Homo sapiens: one gene and its partner. The protein of the gene in region 1 purifies or fractionates together with the protein of each later gene. This does not show direct contact. Each region holds a gene or a part of one and is shown on either strand. Other genes may lie near its edges.

What was found.
Region 2: the proteins of ZNF317 (region 1) and TUBA8 purify together in Homo sapiens (affinity purification with mass spectrometry; 2 studies listed by BioGRID and IntAct, with this or other methods). This does not show direct contact.

What each region holds. Positions count from the first base shown.
Region 1 is NC_000019.10:9,157,328-9,161,074, reverse strand, and holds part of ZNF317 (zinc finger protein 317), read right to left. Parts: coding exon 3,681-3,747; intron 3,242-3,680; exon of another isoform or gene 3,096-3,241; coding exon 3,000-3,095; intron 2,250-2,999; coding exon 2,167-2,249; intron 962-2,166; coding exon 1-961. UniProt on the Homo sapiens protein: May function as a transcription factor. May play an important role in erythroid maturation and lymphoid proliferation.
Region 2 is NC_000022.11:18,108,885-18,112,631, reverse strand, and holds the start of TUBA8 (tubulin alpha-8 chain), read right to left. Parts: upstream 1,824-3,747; 5' UTR 1,767-1,823; coding exon 1,764-1,766; intron 1-1,763.

The sequences.
Region 1 (3,747 bases):
CGCATTCGTAGCGTCTCTCTTGCGTGTGTATCTTCCTGTGTGCGGTGAGGTTTGAACTCGCGCTGAAAGCTTTCCCGCAGAGATCGCACCCGTATGGTTTCTCTCCAGTGTGAGAGTTCATGTGAGTCTTAAGGATGGACTGGTTTCGGAAGGTCTTCCCGCACTGCCGACATTCCACGGGTTTCTTGACGATGTGAATCCTCATGTGTTTCCTCCGGGACACGAGATCGCCAAAGGATTTCCCGCATTCTTTACATTCGTAGGTCTTCTCCACCATGTGGTTCTTCTTGTGCAAATTAAAGTTGGACTTCCAGCGGAAGGCTTTGCCGCACTGCGTGCACGCGTAGGGCTTCTCCCCCGTGTGATTCCTCACGTGCTCTTTGAGGTGGGAGGGGTGCTGGAAAGCTTTCCCACAGTCGTGACACTCGTAGGGCCTCTCTCCGGTGTGCGTTCTCTTGTGTGCGATGAGGTGGCAGCTCCGGCCGTAAGCCTTCCCGCACTGATCACACTTGTAAGGCCTCTCGCCAGTGTGAACTCGCATGTGGATTTTCAGGGCCGAGAGGGTCCGGAATGCATTTCCACACTGACTGCAGTCAAAGGGCTTCTCTTTGAGGTGAGTTCTTGCGTGGCTCCTAAGGGCTGAAGGGTCGTTGAAGGCTTTCCCGCAGTCGCTGCACTCGTAAGGCTTCTCCCCGGTGTGGATTCTCCTGTGCCGTGTGAGGGACGCGCTCGTGGTGAAGGCTTTTTGGCACTGATGACATTCATGCATTTTTCTCCCGTCGTACATGCTCATGTGCTGAGTGAGGTGCGGCCTGCCCTTGAACGCTACCCCATAGTCGCGGCGGTGATAGGGCCTCTTGCCAGCGTGCCTTCCCATTGGCTGAGTGAGATGAGGGTCCATGCCAAAGACTTCGAACAAGTGAGCGTATTCAGTGGACTTCTCTCCAAGACCGGCTCTTTCCTGTTGGTTAAGACGTAAGTGCTGACAAAGGCAATTCTCATATTCATTGCAACCCTAAGCGTCATCCCCACATACACTGCTATGAACAGATAGAAGCACATTACTATGACTAGAGCTGTAACCATCTGCCGTGCAAACGTGCTGTCCCTGCCCCATTTGAGCTCCATCAAGGACAATAGGTGAATGCCAGGCCACAAGGCTCCACATGTGTTACTTTTTCAAAGCTTTTTGCATATAGCATTTCTTCACTGCTTAAAACTGAATTGAGGCTGGGCAAGGTGGCTCACGCCTGTCATCCCAGCACTCTGGAAGGCCAAGGCGGGTGGACCACCTGAGGTCAGGAGTTCGAGACCAGCCTGGCTAACATGGTGAAACGCTGTCTCTACTAAAAATACAAAAATTAGCTGGGCATGGTGGTGCACACCTGTAATCCCAGCTACTCGGGAGGGTGGGACAGGAGAATCACTTGAGCCTGAAAGGTGGAGGCTGCAGTGAGCTGAGATCGTGCCATTGCACTCCAGCCTGGGTGACAAGAGCAAGACTGTGCCTCAAAAAAAAAAACAAAAAACAAAAACAACAACAAAAACAAACAAACAAAAACCACTGAATTGAGGCTGGGCATGGTGGCTCAAGCCTATAATCCCAGCACTTTGGGAGACCGAGGCTGATGGATCTCCAGGAGTTCAAGACCAGCCTGGGCAACATGGTGAAATCCTGTCTCTGCAAAAAATAGAAAAATCAGCCAAGTGTGGTGGCACACGCCTATAGTCCCAGCTGCTCAGGAGGCTGAGGTGGGAGGATGGCTTGAGCCTGGGAGGCAGAGGTTGCAGTGAGCCAAGATGTTGCCCACTGCACTGGGCAACAAGAGCAAGACTGTCTGCCCCCCAAAAAATAAACACCACCAAAACTAAATTGATAAGTAAGTGTACAGCATAAATATAAAATAAAACAAAAACTGCATTGAGCCCCAACACTCAATATCTGAGACACAGCTATAAAAATCTTCACTCAGAGACACTCTAGGTAAAGTAGCTTGAGGTTAGCTTTAGGGTTGTCTCCATCTTGGTAATACCCAGTGTCTCTGAAACACAGTCTCCTCTGAGGGAAGCTGCTTGCCCTGGTGTTGAACTGCTTTTCTAACCTAGGCTGCCCCAGTCTCCTCAGACGTGGAAGGAAGATCCAGAATTATCCCACGGAAATCTTACCATCGTCACACCACTGGGCGTTTCCTTCCCAAAAATATCTTCCATAAGAAGTGACCACTTGGTTTTAGATGGAGTCTCCCAATCTGAAACAAATTGGAAAAGTATTAATTGTTGGAAAAGGAAAATGGTGGGATGATGGTGACAATGACAGGTGGATTTCTTGGCAGATCCTAAGGCTATGTAAGGAAAAGTGGTGCAAAAGCAATTGTTAAAAAATCTGGTCATGTGAGATATTTGGCAATGCCAGGGGTAGAAATTTAAGTCAATTCAGGCCTGGTGCAGTGGCTCACGCCTGTAATCCCAGCACTCTGGGAGGCCGAGGTGGGTGGATCACCTGAGGTCAGGTGTTCGAGACCAGCCTGGACAACATGGTGAAACCCATGTCTACTAATAATACTAAAATTAGGTAGGCATGGCGGCATCATGCCTGTAGTCCCAGCTACTTGGGAGGCAGAGGTTGCAGTGAGCCGAGATCATGCCACTGCACTCCAGCCTGGCAACAGAGTGAGACTCCGTCAAAAAAAAAAAAAAAAAAAAAAAAAAAAGAAAAAAGAAATTTAAGGCAATTCAGATGATGTTGATAATGACAGAAAGCGGATGATCAGAAACATCAAATATGAAAGAATGGGACAAAGAGCCCAATAATGGGAATGTGAAAGTCAAAGATGAAGGAGTGTGTGGACCAAAAGATTTGTCAGAGAATGGATGGGCAAAAAGAGGGAAGGAGCATCTCTCAATTTCCCTGGGTGACACTCCCTAACCTACCTCCCTCCACCCCAGTCACTGAATAGAGGTAGAGTCACAGCACCGCTCTTTGCCTGGGGCTCGCTCACCTGCACAAGCGCCCTGGTGAGCGCCCCTCTCCTCTGTCCTCGGCTCCTCCTCCTGCTCCAAGTGTGAGATGAGGCTGGGTTTGCCGACCTGATACCCTACACTCACGGGAAAGACACAGGTTGAGGGAGGGCCATGCAGAGGACAACCCCTTCCAGTAGCCTGGGCTCAACACTTGGGTCTTCAGTGTTCTGAGGGTGGACAAGTCTGACTTAGGAGCAGCAAAATGGTGGTGCCAAAATTTCTAAGGAACACAGTAAAAGTTTTTGACTGATAGAAAACAAAACCACAGGCAAAGCATGGTGGCTCGTGCCTGTAGCCAGGAGTTCAAGATCAGTCTGGGCAACATAGTGAGAACCCTTCATCACCAAAAATAAAAAAAAAAAAAAAAAAAAAGAAATAGGAAATAAGATCACAAGTACCCACACACTGACCCTCCAAAAGAATGGGGATTTCGTATTTCAGAAGCCCATGCCAAGCTCAGACACACACCGGAGAACCACCATGGTCCCTGCAATAGATGGGCCTCGATACCCAGGAGAGGCCCCATTAAGCATGGGTGCTGGGGCTGCTTGTTCACAGCTGCGTTCTGAACCGCTGCATAGTTCCTGGGTCACAGAACATACTCAAACAAAAACATCTAATTCATGGATGAATAAGTGGAGAAATGGCACTGGCCTTACCCAGTGAAGTGAGGTTGCTGTAGTTCTCCAGCATTACATCTTTGTACAGTTTTCTCTGAGAAGAATC
Region 2 (3,747 bases), on another chromosome or scaffold:
GAATTGTTGATTTACCAGGCATTGTCAGAAACACGTCTGTGGATCACACATTCAAGCTTGTGCACAGGGCTGGGTTAAGATCCTCGACACGCCCCTGTAAACATCCTCTGGGCTCCACTCTGTACCACAATGGCATTCAGATCCAAATTAAAGCATGCAAGGGAAGCACTTGGAAAATCCTAAAACACTAGCTACCTGCTAGATATTATAAATATTAAATATCAATTCTAGAGTATGCAGCCTAGCATTTGCTTCAAAATTATGGAGGGAGGGAATAAATGAAGTGAGACAGGTCAGAAGTTGGTAATTATTGAACTTAGATGATGTATATAATCGCTAATTATACCATTTGCTCTCCGTTTGCATATGTTTGAAATTCCCTACCATAAAAAGTTTAAAAATAATGAAATCTAAGTGGAGTCTTGGAAATTTGAATTATAACCCTCTTCATTTCGCAGGTAAAACAAACACATCCAGAGAGGTTAAGTGACCTTCCTGAAGTCACACAGCTAGCTGCAGAGCCAGGAGTCAAAATTCTGAACTGGCAGCTCCGGGCCCTTTGTGTGGCCTCATACCAGGGTCCTCAGGCAGAAATAGGTTCCTGTGGCCACCCTCCCTAATATTCCCAAGTTCTTTCAGTTCCCAGGGGTGTCTGGGAGCCCGCTAGGAGGAGGGAGGGTGCTGACAAAACTGAAGCTGGAAGGCTAGAGCTCCGGGGGAGCCAGGAGGCCCTGGGCACGGGCCAAACGTAACAGGGCGGGGCGGAGGGGGTTCTCGCCTGCTTTCTGGATCACTGACACCTGGAGCAAGCCTGCCCAGGGAACCCGACCTTGGCCATGACATAGGCTTATTCTGCCCTCACTCTGCCCCCAATCTTTCCAGCCCATCTCCCTACTGCTGAAAGATCAGGGGTCCAGGAGGGATTCCTGGGATTCTGGGCTTTGGGAAAGTGGACTGGGGGCAAATGTTAACCACCAGGGGCACTGGGGGCGGAGAGGGGGACCCTAGAAAGAGGAACTGAGTGTTTGCAGCCGCCCCTCAGTAAGATCCAGGGGCGGGGGCAGGGAAGGGAGCAGCCGCGATCCCCCTAAGCCAGGGTAGGAAACAGGTCGAAGGTCCCCTGGCCTTTGGAAGCAGAGACTTCTTACTCCCAAAGTCCTTCGACTCTGACCGCTGGAAAGACTTGGGAGCTGCTGAGTGCGCCCGGAGGACCCCGCCGCGCTGGGGCTGTGCGTGCAGCAAACCCAAGCCGCTGGCCAGGCTTGCGAGAAAGACCTCCACGCGTGGGGGGACCGTGGCGCCCTAGGTCCTCTGTCACATTCCGGGCCCTGTCACATTAGGCTGGGTTCGGAGACGTGACTGCATCTGGCCCCCCAGTCGCCCCGGCCCAGACCACCCATCCAGAATCCCCGGACTCGCCCTTCTCTCCACTCTGTCCACAGGCTGCCCATCTGGGGACCCCAGAATCTCGCCCCCTTCTCCGTCGGGCTCCCCAGGGCCTCCCTCCCCCTCGTCTGCACGCAAAGCTCCCTTAGGTCCCTTTAAGGAACAACTGGCCCCTGGTCTCTATTTCCCCCATACGATAAAGGGCACCGGGTGTTCCCGCCCGAGGGTGCGGACTCCTCGACCCTGAACTGCCACCCCCAGAAGGCCTTGAGCCCTGCGGCTCCAGGAAGACGGGTCCGTGCGCCTCCGCGTAGACTCGGCTCTCGGTCCTACGCCTGCCGCGCGCCCGCAGCCCGCCTGGCCCCGGGAAGCCTCACCATCGCTGCCGCTGTCCTCGCCCGCGCACCTCTCAGCTGGGCCTGCCCGCCCCGACTGCTCCAGATACAGCCGCCTCCGCCGTTGTGACACACCGGGAGGGGGGGACGCCGGGGACAGGCGCGCCGGGCCCGCAGCTGCCCCCCGGCATCACAGTGCCGGGGAGGGGCGGGCAGGTCACAAAGGCCCCTCCCCGCCCACCCGCGGCTCAAATCTCCGGGTCCTCGGTCCCGCCTCAGCAGCCGGGGGCGCTCGCAGCGGGGACTGCGCCCGCGGGGGAGGCTGCCCTATTACCAAAGCGCACGTGTCCACGTTCCAACACCGCCGGCGAGAGCAGCCTTCGTGACCCCAGCTGCCGGAGAAAGAAATGTAAAATGCAGCCAGGCGAATCGCGCGGGTCTCCCCAAACTTCCGTTCTCCTCCGACCCGCTGGAAAGGCTCCTGACTGGGGTGCAGCTGACCGGAGCGGGCTGCAGCGGGCCCGGGTGCCAAGGTGCCGTCTCAGCTGGGCGCCCTAGGGCCGTGTGTGCTTGGCAAGCTGCAGGGCCTCTGCTCCCAAAGCCTGTGCCTCCTGCCGCCAAGGCCCGCCTGGTTGCTGGAGACGGAAATGAGATGGCATACACAGAGCTCCTGGTACAGGCAGGTGCTGAAGACTGTTCCCGTTTTTACCCTCTCCCCGGATACCTCGCACCTCCACCGGGATTTTCAAATCTCCCCCCTTGATCCCTTCCTACTTTTAAGCCCCAAACGTGTCCAAGTCACATCTCCTATGTAATCCAGAACTCATACCAGGGTTCCCCTGCCTCTGCCCAGTAGTAAGACCCGCCAGATGCTGTTGGTTGCCCCCTGCTCGGGAAGGGGTGGGCACTTGGTAAAAGCCCCTCTTCACACTTTAGATGTTGGCCACGTTGTCACCCTGCCCATCTCCCCTCACTTCCCCCCAGGTGGGTGAGGGGCTGGATGGTCTTTGTTCCTTGTTCTCACTGCTGTTTCTTGTTCTTTCCCTCCAGTGGTCAGTTCCATTCATGTTGAAAGGTGTACCCCAGCCTCTCTCTTCCACTTTCCTCAGCACCAAGCCAACGCAGGCAAATTCATAGGTTTTCCTTAAGACAATACCACTTTAGCCAGACGTGGTAACTCCCCAAGTTTCCAAGCACAGTTAGAGATCTTCCTACCCTTCTGCTCCTAAGACATGCCTGCTTGTGGCCAATAGAGAATGAGAGCAGATTTCTGCTTACCTATGCGGCAATCTGTTCTGTTGGCCACCCATTCATAAACGATAGTACATGTGTCGTAATCATCTTTGCATTTGAGAGAGTACCAAACACAGTGCTTTACCCACTGATACAAACGGTACTTAGTAAAGCATGCGTTGAATTTTTGTCTATCTTATAATGTAAGATCCTGACAATTAAGACTCAGGATTAAGCTAATTGTGCCAAGCACATGATAAATGGTCAATAAAGGATTTTGGTTATTAGTATAACTCTATGTGTATTTCTCTTCCAAACTCTCCCATAGCATATTCTATTACTTCTTCCATAGCATTTCTTTTATTTTTTATTTTTTTTGATGGAGTCTTGCTCTGTCGCCCAGGCTGGAGTGCGGTGGTGTGATCTAGGCTCACTGCAACCTCCGCCTCCCGGGTTCAAGTGATTCTCCTGCCTCAGCCTCCCGAGTAGCTGGGACTACAGGCGCGTGCCACCACGCTCGGCTAATTTTTTGTATTTTTAGTAGAGACGGGGTTTCACCGTGTTACCCAGGATGGTCTCAATCTCCTGACCTTGTGATCCACCCATCTTGGCCTCCCAAAGTGCTGGGATTACAGGCGTGAGCCATCGCGCCCAGCCCCATAGTATTTATCACTTTCTTTTTCTTTTTTTTTTTTTTTTGAGACAAAGTCTCGCTCTGTTGCCCAGGCTGGAGTGCAGTGGTGCGATCTGAGCTCACTGCAACCTCGCCTCCTGGGTTCAAGCGATTCTCCTG